Linked DNA regions of Homo sapiens. The protein of the gene in region 1 interacts with the protein of each later gene in a biochemical or structural test. Each region holds a gene or a part of one and is shown on either strand. Other genes may lie near its edges.

The links.
Region 2: the proteins of GPRC6A (region 1) and ARHGAP21 interact in a test that uses a peptide from one of them, tested with the Homo sapiens proteins (one large-scale study listed by IntAct).
Region 3: the proteins of GPRC6A (region 1) and FRMPD3 interact in a test that uses a peptide from one of them, tested with the Homo sapiens proteins (one large-scale study listed by IntAct).
Region 4: the proteins of GPRC6A (region 1) and PDZRN3 interact in a test that uses a peptide from one of them, tested with the Homo sapiens proteins (one large-scale study listed by IntAct).

Annotation. Positions count from the first base shown.
Region 1 is NC_000006.12:116,819,084-116,822,583, forward strand, and holds part of GPRC6A (G-protein coupled receptor family C group 6 member A isoform 1 precursor), read right to left. Parts: intron 1-3,500. UniProt on the Homo sapiens protein: Receptor activated by multiple ligands, including osteocalcin (BGLAP), basic amino acids, and various cations. Activated by amino acids with a preference for basic amino acids such as L-Lys, L-Arg and L-ornithine but also by small and polar amino acids.
Region 2 is NC_000010.11:24,594,888-24,598,387, reverse strand, and holds part of ARHGAP21 (rho GTPase-activating protein 21), read left to right. Parts: intron 1-378; coding exon 379-443; intron 444-804; coding exon 805-941; intron 942-1,505; coding exon 1,506-1,648; intron 1,649-2,344; coding exon 2,345-2,500; intron 2,501-2,592; coding exon 2,593-2,671; intron 2,672-3,197; coding exon 3,198-3,271; intron 3,272-3,348; coding exon 3,349-3,438; intron 3,439-3,500. UniProt on the Homo sapiens protein: Functions as a GTPase-activating protein (GAP) for RHOA and CDC42. Downstream partner of ARF1 which may control Golgi apparatus structure and function. Also required for CTNNA1 recruitment to adherens junctions.
Region 3 is NC_000023.11:107,448,269-107,452,451, reverse strand, and holds the start of FRMPD3 (FERM and PDZ domain-containing protein 3), read right to left. Parts: upstream 2,801-4,183; 5' UTR 2,447-2,800; intron 1-2,446.
Region 4 is NC_000003.12:73,383,942-73,387,441, forward strand, and holds part of PDZRN3 (E3 ubiquitin-protein ligase PDZRN3), read right to left. Parts: intron 1,845-3,500; coding exon 1,728-1,844; intron 990-1,727; coding exon 1-989. UniProt on the Homo sapiens protein: E3 ubiquitin-protein ligase. Plays an important role in regulating the surface level of MUSK on myotubes. Mediates the ubiquitination of MUSK, promoting its endocytosis and lysosomal degradation. Might contribute to terminal myogenic differentiation.

The sequences.
Region 1 (3,500 bases):
ACCAACAAAGATCAAAAGAGACAAAGAAGGCCATTACATAATGGTAAAGGGATCCATTCAACAAGAAGAGCTAACTATCCTAAATATATATGCACCCAACACAGGAGCACCCAGATTCATAAAGCAAGTCCTGAGTGACCTACAAAGAGACTTAGACTCCCACACATTAATAATGGGAGACTTTAACACCCCACTGTCAACATTAGACAGATCAACGAGACAGAAAGTCAACAAGGATACCCAGGAATTGAACTCAGCTCTGCACCAAGTGGACCTAATAGACATCTACAGAACTCTCCACCCCAAATCAACAGAATATACATTTTTTTCAGCACCACACCACACCTATTCCAAAATTGACCACATACTTGGAAGTAAAGCTCTCCTCAGCAAATGTAAAAGAAGAGAGATTATAACAAACTATCTCTCAGACCACAGTGCAATCAAACTAGAACTCAGGATTAAGAATCTCACTCAAAACCGCTCAAATACATGGAAACTGAACAACCTGCTCCTGAATGACTACTGGGTACATAATGAAATGAAGGCAGAAATAAAGATGTTCTTTGAAACCAACAAGAACAAAGACACAACATACCAGAGTCTCTGGGACACATTCAAAGCAGTGTGTAGAGGGAAATTTATAGCACTAAATGCCCACAAGAGAAAGCAGGAAAGATCCAAAATTGACACCCTAACATCACAATTAAAAGAACTAGAAAAGCAAGAGCAAACACATTCAATAGCTAGCAGAAGGCAAGAAATAACTAAAATCAGAGCAGAACTGAAGGAAATAGAGACACAAAAAACCCTTCAAAAAATTAATGAATCCAGGAGCTGGTTTTTTGAAAGGATCAACAAAATTGATAGACCGCTAGCAAGACTAATAAAGAAAAAAAGAGAGAAGAATCAAATAGATGCAATAAAAAATGATAAAAGGGATATCACCACCGATCCCACAGAAATACAAACTACCATCAGAGAATACTACAAACACCTCATGCAAATAAACTAGAAAATCTAGAAGAAATGGATAAATTCCTTGACACATACACTCTCCCAAGACTAAACCAGGAAGAAGTTGAATCTCTGAATAGACCAATAACAGGATCTGAAATTGTGGCAATAATCAATAGTTTACCAACCAAAAAGAGTCCAGGACCAGATGGATTCACAGCTGAATTCTAGCAGAGGTAAAAGGAGGAACTGGTACCATTCCTTCTGAAACTATTCCGATCAATAGAAAAAGAGGGAATCCTCCCTAACTCATTTTATGAGGCCAGCATCATTCTGATACCAAAGCTGGGCAGAGACACAACCAAAAAAGAGAATTTTAGACCAATATCCTTGATGAACATGGATGCAAAAATCCTCAATAAAATACTGGCAAAACGAATCCAGCAGCACATCAAAAAGCTTATCCACCATGATCAAGTGGGCTTCATCCCTGGGATGCAAGGCTGGTTCAATATATGCAAATCAATAAATGTAATCCAGCATATAAACAGAGCCAAAGACAAAAACCACATGATTATCTCAATAGATGCAGAAAAAGCCTTTGACAAAATTCAACAACCCTTCATGCTAAAAACTCTCAATAAATTAGGTATTGATGTGACATATTTCAAAATAATAAGAGCTATCTATGACAAACCCACAGCCAATATCATACTGAATGGGCAAAAACTGGAAGCATTCCCTTTGAAAACTGGCACAAGACAGGGATGCCCTCTCTCACCACTCCTATTCAACGTAGTGTTGGAAGTTCTGGCCAGGGCAATTAGGCAGGAGAAGGAAATAAAGGGTATTCAATTAGGAAAAGAGGAAATCAAATTGTCCCTGTTTGCAGATGACATGATTGTATATCTAGAAAACCCCATTGTCTAAGCCCAAAATCTCCTTAAGCTGATAAGCAACTTCAGCAAAGTCTCAGGATACAAAATCAATGTACAAAAATCACAAGCATTCTTATACACCAACAACAGACAAACAGAGAGCCAAATCATGAGTGAACTCCCATTCACAATTGCTTCAAAGAGAATAAAATACCTAGGAATCCAACTTCCAAGGGATGTGAAGGACCTCTTCAAGGAGAACTACAAACCACTGCTCAAGGAAATAAAAGAGGATACAAACAAATGGAAGAACATTCCATGCTCATGGGTAAGAAGAATCAATATTGTGAAAATGGCCATACTGCCCAAGGTAATTTACAGATTCAATGCCATCCCCATCAAGCTACCAATGCCTTTCTTCACAGAATTGCAAAAAACTACTTTAAAGTTCATATGGAACCAAAAAAGAGCCCGCATCGCCAAGTCAATCCTAAGCCAAAAGAACAAAGCTGGAGGCATCACGCTACCTGACTTCAAACTATACTACAAGGCGACAGTAACCAAAACAGCATGGTACCGGTACCAAAACAGAGATATAGATCAATGGAACAGAACAGAGCCCTCAGAAATAACGTCACATATCTACAACTATCTGATCTTTGACAAACCTGAGAAAAACAAGCAATGGGGAAAGGATTCCCTATTTAATAAATGGTGCTGGGAAAACTGGCTAGCCATATGTAGAAAGCTGAAACTGGATCCCTTCCTTACACCTTAGACAAAAATCAATTCAACATGGATTAAAGACTTAAACGTTAGACCTAAAACCATAAAAACCCTAGAAGAAAACCTAGGCATTACCATTCAGGACATAGGCATGGGCAAGGACTTCATGTCTAAAACACCAAAAGCAATGGCAACAAAAGCCAAAATTGACAAATGGGATCTAATTAAAGTAAAGAGCTTCTGCACAGCAAAAGAAACTACCATCAGAGTGAACAGGCAACCTACAAAATGGGAGAAAATTTTCACAACCTACTCATCTGACAAAGGTCTAATATCCAGAATCTACAATGAACTCAAACAAATTTACAAGAAAAAAACGAACAACCCCATCAAAAAGTGGGTGAAGGACATGAACAGACACTTCTCAAAAGAAGACATTTATGCAGCCAAAACACACATGAAAAAATGCTCATCATCACTGGCCATCAGAGAAATGCAAATCAAAACCACAATGAGATACCATCTCACACCAGTTAGAATGGCAATCATTAAAAAGTCAGGAAACAACAGGTGCTGGAGAGGATGTGGAGAAATAGGAACACTTTTACACTGTTGGTGGGACTGTAAACTAGTTCAACCATTGTGGAAGTCAGTGTGGCGATTCCTCAGGGATCTAGAACTAGAAATACCATTTGACCCAGCCATCCCATTACTGGGTATATACCCAAAGGATTATAAATCATGCTGCTATAAAGACACATGCACACGTATGTTTATTGCGGCATTATTCACAATAGCAAAGACTTGGAACCAAGCCAAATGTCCAACAATGATAGACTGGATTAAGAAAATGTGGCACATATACACCATGGAATACTATGCAGCCATAAAAAATGATGAGTTCATGTCCTTTGTAGGGACATGGATGAAATTGGAAAT
Region 2 (3,500 bases), on another chromosome or scaffold:
GAAAAATCACTTACACGTATATTTCTTAAATGCTGATCATTCTTTCTGGTATTAGAGAAAACACTGGCTGCTTCCTAGTCATTTATTTTAAATGGACGGATCAATTCAATAAGTATTGAACACATGTTACTTGCTGGTACTATCCTAGGTATCGCATGGATACAGAAAAGAAGCAAAACCCTTTGGCAATGTTGGGAGGCACTTGGAAAATCTTTCACACAGTGATGTTGAATAGAAGCTTTGAAACAGCTCCACTGAGAACAGATGATAGTAGTGTTTGTGTTAAATAAGCAAAGCAGTACAATAGAAAGCCTCAAAAAAGTAAGGATCACTTATTTATGTTTAGAATTGATTTTCTAATTTTACTTTATTCTGTAGGACACTGGAGTCACTAACAGGGATCTAATTAGTCGAAGAATAAAAGAATACAACAATCTGATGAGGTGAGAATCCCACCTTGCCTGCAGTTAATTTGGATATAAAATCAGTACAGTCATCCCCCTTATTTGCAAGGATACATTCCAAGACCCCCAGTGGATGCTTGAAACCGCAGATAGTACCAAATCCTCTCTACGCTATATTTTTTCCCATATAGTAATGGGCGGGTAGTGTATACAGTGTGGCTACTCGGGATGAAAGGATGATTCTTATTCTGGGCAGGACTACAAAATTGAAAGCTTATGAATTGTTTATTCCAAGAATTTTCCAGTTAATATTTTCAGACCATGGCTCACCACGGGTAACTGAAACCATAGATAGAGGGGGATTACTGTAATTGTTAACAAATGTCATTTCCTTCAACAGCAAAGCAGAACAGTTGCCAAAAACACCTCGCCAGAGTCTCAGCATCAGGCAAACTTTGCTTGGTGCTAAATCAGAGCCAAAGACTCAAAGCCCACACTCTCCGAAGGAAGAGTCGGAAAGGAAACTTCTCAGTAAAGGTATTGATGTTAGCTTTCTAACAAATAAATATAATGATTTAAAATTGGCATCGTTGAGGTACGTTTATGTTTTCTGTACCATTTCTACTGACCAGGCCCCATGTCAACTAGCTCAAAATTCATAGTAGGCTTGGTCTGGGCTCATTGGGCCTTTCCCTTTGTGAGGCCCAAGACACCAGCTTCATTATAAAGCGAAAGTGAGGGAAAATACAAACAATACTTAAATCAGAGACATTACAAATTTAAATGACTCCGAGGATTCAGGTCCTATCATTTTGAAATAAAACTATTACTTTTCCCTTTGTTGAAGTCTCACTATAAAGATGACACACTGATTCTATGTAGTTTTTTTTTTTGCTGTTTTAAAGAAAATTATAGCACGCATTATAAAAGAATGAAGTAAAAGTTATATGGAAGAGAACATATTTTTGTTAAATATAGGATGTATTATTTATATTACAGGACTTGGATTTATGTAAACATTGATAAAGTGTTTTTAAAGTCATGATTTAGACACTCATTTCCATTTTATTATGTTGTTTTATTTTGACTGGCAATCAAAAGATGATACCAGTCCCCCAAAAGACAAAGGCACATGGAGAAAAGGCATTCCAAGTATCATGAGAAAGACATTTGAGAAAAAGCCAACTGCTACAGGAACTTTCGGCGTCCGACTAGATGACTGCCCACCAGCTCATACTAATCGGGTAGGAGACACCAGCCCACCGGATTTCCTCAAGTCATTAATTCAGTTTTGATTATAATGGGATCTGAGTATATAGCCTTTCAGACAACAGAGACTGTCAATCTGTTTTCCTTTTCATAGCAGACCTTAGTTTCCCTAAGTATTTCTGACCTGTAATGCTTTTTTTCTAATGTATTGACTCCGAAATTGAATAATTATTCAACCATTAGGAATTTGTCTGAAATGGTCTGTAAGAATTCGTCTTCAAATCGTGTGTTTCTGCTTTTAGCATTTTAAAACAAGGATGAGAACAAGGACCTGATTAAGAAAGTATAATACATGTAAATGTATGTGCATATATTTAAAACACCCATGCTAGGATTCGTATCATGAATTGATATTACTCTCTCCTCCTCTTTTCTTGACTCTTTATTCAGCGGAACGGTTTCCACATTCTCTTTACCTGTTGTTACTTCCTTTTTAGAATGTTATCTCTCTGGGGGTCCCTCTCTTTCTTTCAGTCTCTTTGTTCTCTTCTTACTGTCTCAAATATCTCTTGCAGGTTTTATCTATTCCCAGATCTATAATGTCTGTATTCTTTATATTACATAACAGCAATTTATGTTTCCTTTTGGATGAAAGGGGCATTTTAGCTGTGATATACAACTACTAAACATTTGTGCTGCATTAAATAAAATGTTTATTTCTTGTTTTGCAGTATATTCCATTAATAGTTGACATATGTTGCAAATTAGTTGAAGAAAGAGGTCTTGAATATACAGGTATTTATAGAGTTCCTGGAAATAATGCAGCCATCTCAAGTATGCAAGAAGAACTCAACAAGGGAATGGCTGATATTGATATACAAGATGATGTAAGTTTGCTTATTTGAATAACTGATCCTTTTTTTTCCCCCTTTGGTGGAACTGGATATGAAAATACTATATTTCTATTTTGTACACCTAGAAATGGCGAGATTTGAATGTGATAAGCAGTTTACTAAAATCCTTCTTCAGAAAACTCCCTGAGCCTCTCTTCACAAATGGTGAGTTAACTCCCGTGAAAGATACCAGATGAAATGGTTCAAGTTACAATTGGAAAACCATAGAATATTAAATTGAACAAGGACAAAATGTCTTGGTCAAAGGAAGCAGGAGGCTTTATTTAGTTCTCCCTCATATATTAAAAACATAAAAGTTATTTAGGTTCAGTGAAATATGTATTATCTTGTTCATACATGTTTGCAGCCAAATTAATATTATTGTTTCCAGTCAAATGGCTTCTGACATCATAAGGTACAATGAGTAGAAAAATGTTTTTTCAGTCAAGCCAAGTATTTAAGTGCCATGTAAGACACTTTACTAGATGTTGTTGGAGGGTGGGGGAGGAATGGACAGGCTGTGTAAATATAGGATGGTTCCTGCAGGGAACTTACATTTTAGAAATTTACATTTCAAAACTATTAGAACTCTTTCCTATGTTGTGGTTTAAAATTGATCCTTAAAGGGAAACTAGATTACAATTCACCTAGGCAATTTAAGATAAATTTGTTTTATTGTTCTTGTCGTCAGATAAATATGCTGATTTTATTGAAGCCAATCGTAAAGAAGATCCTCTAGATCGTCTGAAAACATTAAAAAGACTAGTAGGTATTATTTTATATTTTGGGGGATACAACTAAAATTCAGCCTCTGAATCCATTGTGAAAATAATCTGTTTCAGATTCACGATTTGCCTGAACATCATTATGAAACACTTAAGTTCCTTTCAGCTCATCTGAAGACAGTGGCAGAAAATTCAGAAAAAAATAAGGTATGTAAAATGCTTATTGAAGAAATGTACTTTTAGTGGCTTTAGTTTAAAAGATATGCTTC
Region 3 (4,183 bases), on another chromosome or scaffold:
AGGCGGTTGTGGTGTTGGGTGCCAGCGAGAGATAGGGGATATTCTCTCCACATGCAGCAATGAGTGTTTCTTTCCTGCTTATATCTTATTCCCTCCTTTCTCAGAATCTGGCAGTGGCTCCCAATTGCCTCTCAAGTCAATTGAAACCTTCTCTTTGTGGGCCTCAAAACCCTCCACAATTACATCTCACCTTCTGACACCCTCACTCCCACACACACATCACCCATAACTCTGGCCTAGGCACAGACAGTAGAGTAGACAGATGAGGTTGTCCACAAACTGCTCCTGCCTGAGTCCTGCCACAGGTGCCTGAAAGCCCCACCAACAGAGTCACTCCTCTGTGTCCTTTAAAAATGCAAATGTTACCTGTGAGGTGTAAGCAGTAAACCTCTATCAGCTATTAACACCTTGGCCTGGCAGGGATTCTGTCATCAAATTTGCCCGAGCAGTGAGCAAAGCCCCGCCTAAATAATCTAAGGGGGCGGGGGAGAGGACCCAGAGGAGCCCTGAGCAGCCGACGGGAGGGGCAGGAGCAGGGAAGGGGCTCTGACGTAGAAGCCATCGCCGTCACGATTTTACCACGGTCTACATTCTAACTCCGCATCTCTACTTAAAACAGTAAAACCCACTAGTCCTTGCTCCCCTCAACCTTGTTTCCCCCATCCACAATACATTATGCCTTATTTAACCTCAGGGGTGCCTTCATGACAAGCTGCTAAGGTTGAATTAGTCCTTTCACATGAAATACAAAAACAAACAAACAAAAAAACAAGCCATGAAATTGGGTAGACGCTGGCATGTTTGCTTGGGCACGGCCAAGTCTTGTTGAGGTCTCCCCGGGTAGAGCAAGATCTCTTTGCTCAGCGGAAACAGCAAAGGCTTCCCGAAAAGCCTCTCTTAGCTCCCAAGAAGCTGGCAGCTGGGTTCCCCCTGCTTCTCCTGCAGTGAGCTTCATGGGCAAGGAAGGCGAGGGAGGGGCAGGGCCTCCAAGCTGAGGGCCTCTGTGGCTGAACTGGCACACTATCCCGGGTCCTCTAGGCCCAGGTGGAGTTCGCCATTTACCCCGGTCTCCAGCTGGGAAAACTCACTTGGTGCTTCGCTCTGAGTCAGCATAGAATCCCCCACCCTCCACTTCGAGAAGGGCGCCCCCAAGGGAGCCTTGCGCTTATAGCAGTTCCTCCGAAGGCAGGAGTCCAGAGACTGCCCCGCCCTCCGTAAGAGCTGCAGGATGCTAAGACCACCCGGTGGACTCCAGGGTTTTGCACCTGGACCAAGATGCCAAGGGGAGGGGCAGGTCTAGCAGAATTCGGCGTTTGCTGTCATCTGGGGCTCTTTAGTTGCAGCTGCAAGGGTGGAGGTGCCACCTGCTTCTGGGGGAAGGTGTCAAACATTTGCCCCTGCAGTGGTTTCAGTGTGTGTGTATGGGGCTGTGGTGTGTGTGTGCAGGAAACCCAACAGCTCGAGCGTGGAGGGTATGACTACCAGAGTTGGGCACGCTTTTTGCCAGAATGGGGTTCTTAAGGGCTCTGGTGGAGGTGTCTACAGTAGCTGCGTGTGACGGGGGGTTGCTGGGTGTGTATTGGGGGGAAGCAGCAGGTACTGGATCTGCAGTAATGTGCAGTTGTCATGTAGTTTCTCAAGACCACTCTGAGAAAACACACACACACTCACATACACACACACACTCTCCAACCTCCAAAGCACTAGGCTGGGGAGTAGAGGAGTGTGTTTGTGTGTGCATGTTTTAGCAGCGCTAGGGGGAGGTGCATGTATCTGTATATGTGTTTGAGCTTTATTAGCATCTTGGTGGGAGGGGGCAAGTGTAGCTCGCGCTCTCTCTCTCTCTCTCTGTGTGTGTGTGTGTGTGTGTGTGTGTGTGTGTGTGTGTGGTCTTTGCATGGGGCTGACTGTGTGGCTGAGCGCCGGGTATGTTGTGCGGCTGTGTGTGCGTGTGTGTGCGCCTCCGTGTCCGCTTGTGAACATGGCCCCGGGAACCACGCACATGCTTCAGACAGCTGTTTCTGGCAGCCCCTGGGCTCGGGCTTCGCCGGGCACCCCGGCTAAGTGGCCACCTCCTAGCAGCCAGGCCCCGCGTCTCGCCAGCTCTCCCAACTGTGCCCACAGCCCAGGCGCGCACACAAAGGCTCCATAATGAACGCGCTGCACTCCCCTGCGCTCGACTCCTCACCCCGCACCCGCGGAGGCCAAACGAGCCCGCCAAGCCAGAGACTCGCCGGGGCAGTGGGCACGCAACGGGCCGTTACCCCGCCCGCCCAAACTCCGGGCGGCCAGACGTTCGGCGCCCCCCGCCCTGCCCCCGGCTCCCGGGGGCGCCCAAGCGCCAGTCGCCCCCCAGCCGGCCCGGGGCGGAACGCTCCCGCCGCGACCCACCCCCGGTTGGGCTGAGACAGCGGGCGCGCCCCCCTGAAGGCAGCGCGCCTCTTACCTTCCTCCCCCTCCTCTTCCTCCTCCTCTTCCTCCTCCTCCTCCTCCTCCTCCGCCTCCTCAGCGGCGCGGCAGCGGCGGCGCAGCGGCGGCGGCGGCGGCGGCGGCAGCGGGACTAGGGCACCCGTGCCCCCGAGCCCGGCATGGGCTTGGGGCTCAGTGGCGCCGGGCGGCGGGGCGGGCAGAGGTTGGCAGGGCGGCAGCAGCTGGCCCGGGACGCGGGGAGCTGGCGCGCAGGCGGCGGGCTGCGGGCAGGATGGCAGGAGCGCGCGCGGGCTCCTCGGGCGGGCTTCATGGCTGCGCCGCGGGCGGCACCATCGCCGTGGCTCGCTCGTCGCTCTCTCGCTCCAGGAGTGCGGCAGGCTGCGAGGTGACGGATGGCGGCGAGGCGGCCGGACGGCCGAGGAGGGGAGGGGAGAAGGGGCGGGGGGAGGGGGAGGGGGAGGAAAGAGGGGAGTGCAGAATGAGGGGCCTCTCCGGCGCCTCCCGACCCTCGAGTGCTGGCGTCGATTTCCCCGAATGGGAAAGCGGCTTAAAGGCGCAGTTCCTGGCTCGGGTCACTACTAAAAATAAGCAAAAAATTGACAATTGGGGAAAGAATCTCCCAAGAACAACCCAGCAACCCAGCCACCCAGCCTGGCGCTGCCTCACTTCTTGAATCTGACCGTTACGGCCGGACTCTGCCGGGAACTGCTGGCTGCCGAGAGGGCAAGCCAATTTCCAAAGTGAACCCGGGAAAGGGGGGCGGGGAGTGAACTGCGGAGAAGGGGCAGCAGGAACGCTTGCTTCGGAGACTCCGTTCCCTGGCCCCTGACCTTGCTTCTCGCCCCTTGTTTGCTCGCCTTCTGCTGGGGATGCCCTCCCTGCAGCTCCCCTCCTGGTCACCATCGCAAACATCCACACGCACCTTGAGTTTCGGCTCGGGCTCCTGCTCTCAGCGCCTCTCCCCAGCACTGGAGTGTGAGCGGCTTCGAGCCCAGGCCCAACGCCAGGAGCCCACCTCAGTAAGGGAGCGATCTGCCAGCTGGCAAAGGTCTGCTTAGAAAATGCGATTGGTTTGGTGAAAAGGGAAAAAGGTTAAGGTGTGTGTGCATGTGTGTTCACCAGCAGATGGAGGGAGGGTCCTGGCCACACACACACACCCGGAAGGAGAGCAGCTAGGCACACAGCACAGTGCCTGATGAATGATCTCAGGACGTTTTTTAGAGACATGCTGTGAATACTAAACATGCAGCAGCCGAGATTCAAGAGAAGCTCTTGGTCTCCCAGCGGGCTCCAGACCCCTTCAGAGGAGTTTTGAGGGCCAAGAAAAAAGGCCACTCTTCCTTCCCCAAAAAGGGCAGCCTCAGTGGGGACCCAGAGAGACTGGGAAGCTGGACAGTGGGTCTGGGTGGTGAAGTTAAGGCCAGGGAAGAGAGAAGCAGGAGGAAGCAGTGGAGTTGAGGAGCTCCTGGTGATGCCAAATACATGGTGAATTTCCGGGTGTCAGAAGCACCTCGGAGAGACAGTTAAACATTGGCACATTTGGGCCTTGTGAGTTCTAAGGTGAAAAGTCAGCCCTCCTCGATTTCCTCTGTGTTCCTGAACTCTAAAGGAGGCTGTTGGCACAAAGGGATCCATTCTAGTTGGAATATTTCCTCACTTTCGGTTCTTTTCAAGCACTTGGTTAAAGCTTCAGAAGAGGCCGGAGGGCTACTGAGGGGCAATTGTGGGACAAGGGCTGTTCTCCTAGGCTGCA
Region 4 (3,500 bases), on another chromosome or scaffold:
GCCGGGATGTGCGCGTGCTTGTATGGGGAGTGGTGATAGGAGGGCAGGTAGGCGCTGCCCAGCTTCTGGCTGGGCGTGGGGCTCCGGCTCCCGTCGCTGGCTCTCCGCTCTTTGCTTTCCAGGGGCTGGTTGGGGTCCAGCTCCTTCAGGGACGGGCTATAGGTAGGGGTGCCCACTTCGGGATCTTCCGTGATGGAGAGCAGATTCTTGGAGGCTGGCCCGTAGGCTTCCGTGGTCCCCACAGCCCCTTCGCTGCTCGGGCAGCTGATGCCCTCCGCCGCTCTCCTCAAGGAGTTGTCGGGGGAGATCTCCAGGGTGAGCGGGGTGCTGCGGCAGCTCTCGCCTGTGTTGTAGGCGCTCGAGCTGTCCTTGTCGGATTTCTCCGGGAGCTCGGTGATATCTGAGAGCTCGTGTCTGCGCACGTCGATGCTGGTGTTGTAGTTGCGGAAGCCGCTGTTGTGCAGCATCCAGGACTCGCGGTACTGCTCCTTGAGCTGCTGCATCTTGTGGGCGCGCACGATGCTCAGGCACTCCAGCTCGATGCTGCGCAGCTCTTCGTTCAGCAGCTCCAGCTCCTTGTCCACGCTCTCAGGGTCACTCTTGCCGGCGTCCAGGGGGCCGCTAGGGTAGTACAGGCCGTAAGGGGTGGCGCTCTTCACCTGGCACTTGAGCTCCAGGAGCTCGCGGAAGCGCTCGCACTCGTCCACCGGGATCCCCAGGTAGTCGGCGTCCGTGCAGTCGGCCGAAATGAAAGACTCGTTGCTGAAGGGCAGGTCGCCGCTGCCCAAGGTGTCCTGGCTGCAGGTGAGCTTCCTCTGCCCCGCCAGCGGGTTGGAGGATGCGGTGGCGTCGTCGCCATTGTTCTCTTGCTCCGAGCTCTCGTCATTACGGGTGCTCTCGTCGGTCCGCCCCACACCGCTGTCCTTCTCGTGCTGGTTGGACAAGATGGTGGCTGTATCTGTGGTCCCACCGTCTTCGTCGTGCTTCTTCTGCATAAACACAAGAACAAAGGGTCACAGTGAGGGAGGCCTGCGCAGCAGGTACTCAGGTTTGACCTTTCCTTGCGGTTTCTGGATAGGGCAGGCTGTACATTTCTAAGGCCAAGGGACAGCATCTGACAGTAGGACCACGTCAATAGCGTGGGCCTTAGCTACACCTACCCGTATCTACCTGGGCAAGTCACTTATTCTTGTTCTTGTCCTCAGTTTTGTAAAATGAGGATAATAGTCACTTTATCTCAATGAATGATTCTCAATGATTCTGTTAAATGAATCAGTACACAGGTAGAAGGATGTATAAAGGTCCTTGTTCAACTCAATAAGGACTCAATAAGTGGCTCATTAAGACTCTGACAATGGTAGTAGCATAGCAGGGAGCTAGAGAGCTCCAAGCAGCTCCTGTTAAACAGAGGGGATTGCTTTACTTTGGAAAACATGGCTTTTTGCAATCTATGGTAATGCCAACGCATATGTTTTCCAAACAAATTATCAGAAGGTCAGCTTTGCTTTGGCAATGTTGCTTAGATTTAAAAGCTTAGCTAGGGACAGTACCAGCTTGCATTTCACTGGTCTGGTGCTCAAATAGAAAAGTACTTGAGGCTGTTTTCTTGCTGCCTTCCAGGTGGATGGACTTCTGATGGTCTTTAGCACCATAAAGGGAGATGGAGGAAGCAGATTTTCCTCCAGCTCAGCAGGGCAGAGTGTCAGGGACTGGTGCGTGGGCGTTACCTGCTGCAGCACGCTAGCTGTGAATTGCATGGCCTGGTGGTGCTGCTCCTCCAGCATGTCCATGTGCAGGTCATCCAGAAAGTCGTTCCTGTCATCATCCATCCAGCCCTCATCCAGCTGCAGGCAAGAGCAGCCAACACATGCCTTAGAAGTTTCCTTTCATGTTCATTTATGTTTTTTTAAAAATGACATTACCTTGGGGGAAAATATTTCTAGGGCTTCCTCCAAGAGTCATCAAAATGCAGTCTGCCCAATGATTTGCTGTTAAGTCAGGAAACTATCCAACCCTTACATTAAACAGACCTCCAACCCTACACTACATCTGGGGAAGTCTTTAATATCCATGATTTTTTTTTTTCAGGGTGAAACTCTTTCATCCATCTCAGCTACCTTCAGTGCAGTAGGACACCTGTGTAGGAGGGTCAGGTAGATTTAGCTGGTCCACCTGCTTGCTGGACCAGACACGAGTTTAACAGGTCCCATAGAAAAATGATTTTCAGTGTGAAAAGAGTTCTTTCTGATACAGTAACTAGCTGTTTGGCTTGGGCAAGATATCACTTTTTTTTTTTTTTTTTTTGAGACAGAATCTCACTCTGTCTCCCAGGCTGGAGTGCAGTGGCACGATCTAGGTTCACTGCAACCTCTGCCTCCCGAGTAGCTGGGATTACAGGCAATGCGCCACTATGCCCAGCTAATTTTGGTATTTTTAGTAGAGATTGGGTTTCACCATGTTGGCCAGGCTGGCCTCATCCTGACCTCAAGTGAACCTCCTGCCTCAGCCTCCCAACATGCTGGGATTATAGGCGTGAGCCACTGAGCCTGGCTGGATATCACTTTTAAGAGGCCTTTATCTGCCTTGCCCAAAAAAGAGTGAACTATTCAGAAGTTGGCACTCTATAGCCCATGGGCTGAATCCAGCCTGGTATTTTTATAAATAATAATAAAAAAAGTTGAATGAGAACACAGCCATGCTCATTCGCTGACATAATTGTCTATGGCTGCTTTTGCACTAGAGTGACAGTCTAGCAGTCATGGCAGAGATGGTATGGCCACCCAAGTCAAACATTTACTATCTGGCCCTTTAAGAAAAAGTCTGTGACTGTGGGTGAGATGATTGCTGAAGTTCCCTTTGAGCTCATGAGGCTCCCATCTGTGGAGAATCAGATGCCCCGTATGCCACTGTCTGTCTCTCGGCTTTTTCAATCGGGTTTCATACTGATATGGTTTGGCTGTCCCCACCCAAATCTCACCTTGAATTGTAGCTCCCATAAGTCCTACGTGTTGTGCGAGGGACCTCGTGGGAGATAATTGAATCATGGGGGCAGTTTTCCCCATACTGTTCTCATGGTAGTGAATAAGTCTCATGAGATCTGATAGTTTTATAAGGGGAAACCCCGTTTGCTTGGTTCTCATCTCTCTTCCCTGCTGCCACGTAAGACGTGCCTTTTGCCTTCCACCATGATTGTGAGGCCTCCCCAGCCATGTGGAACTGTGAGTCCATGAAACCTCTTTTTTCTTTATAAATTACCCAGTCTCGAGTATGTCTTTATCAGCAGCATGAAAACGGACTAATACACATACCTAAAGAGATCTACTACTGGATTGCCCTAGATGTGTTGCTGGAGCCATTCTAAGTGGATCAAGAGTGCCACCTGGGTGAGTTCATGATTCCTCCTGTGGAAGGAGTTATTACAACACAGAGGTTTCTGAATCAGATTACTTGGGCCTGAACCCCTCCCTGCTTTATCACCCTCCTTCTGGGCCTTTCCTGGG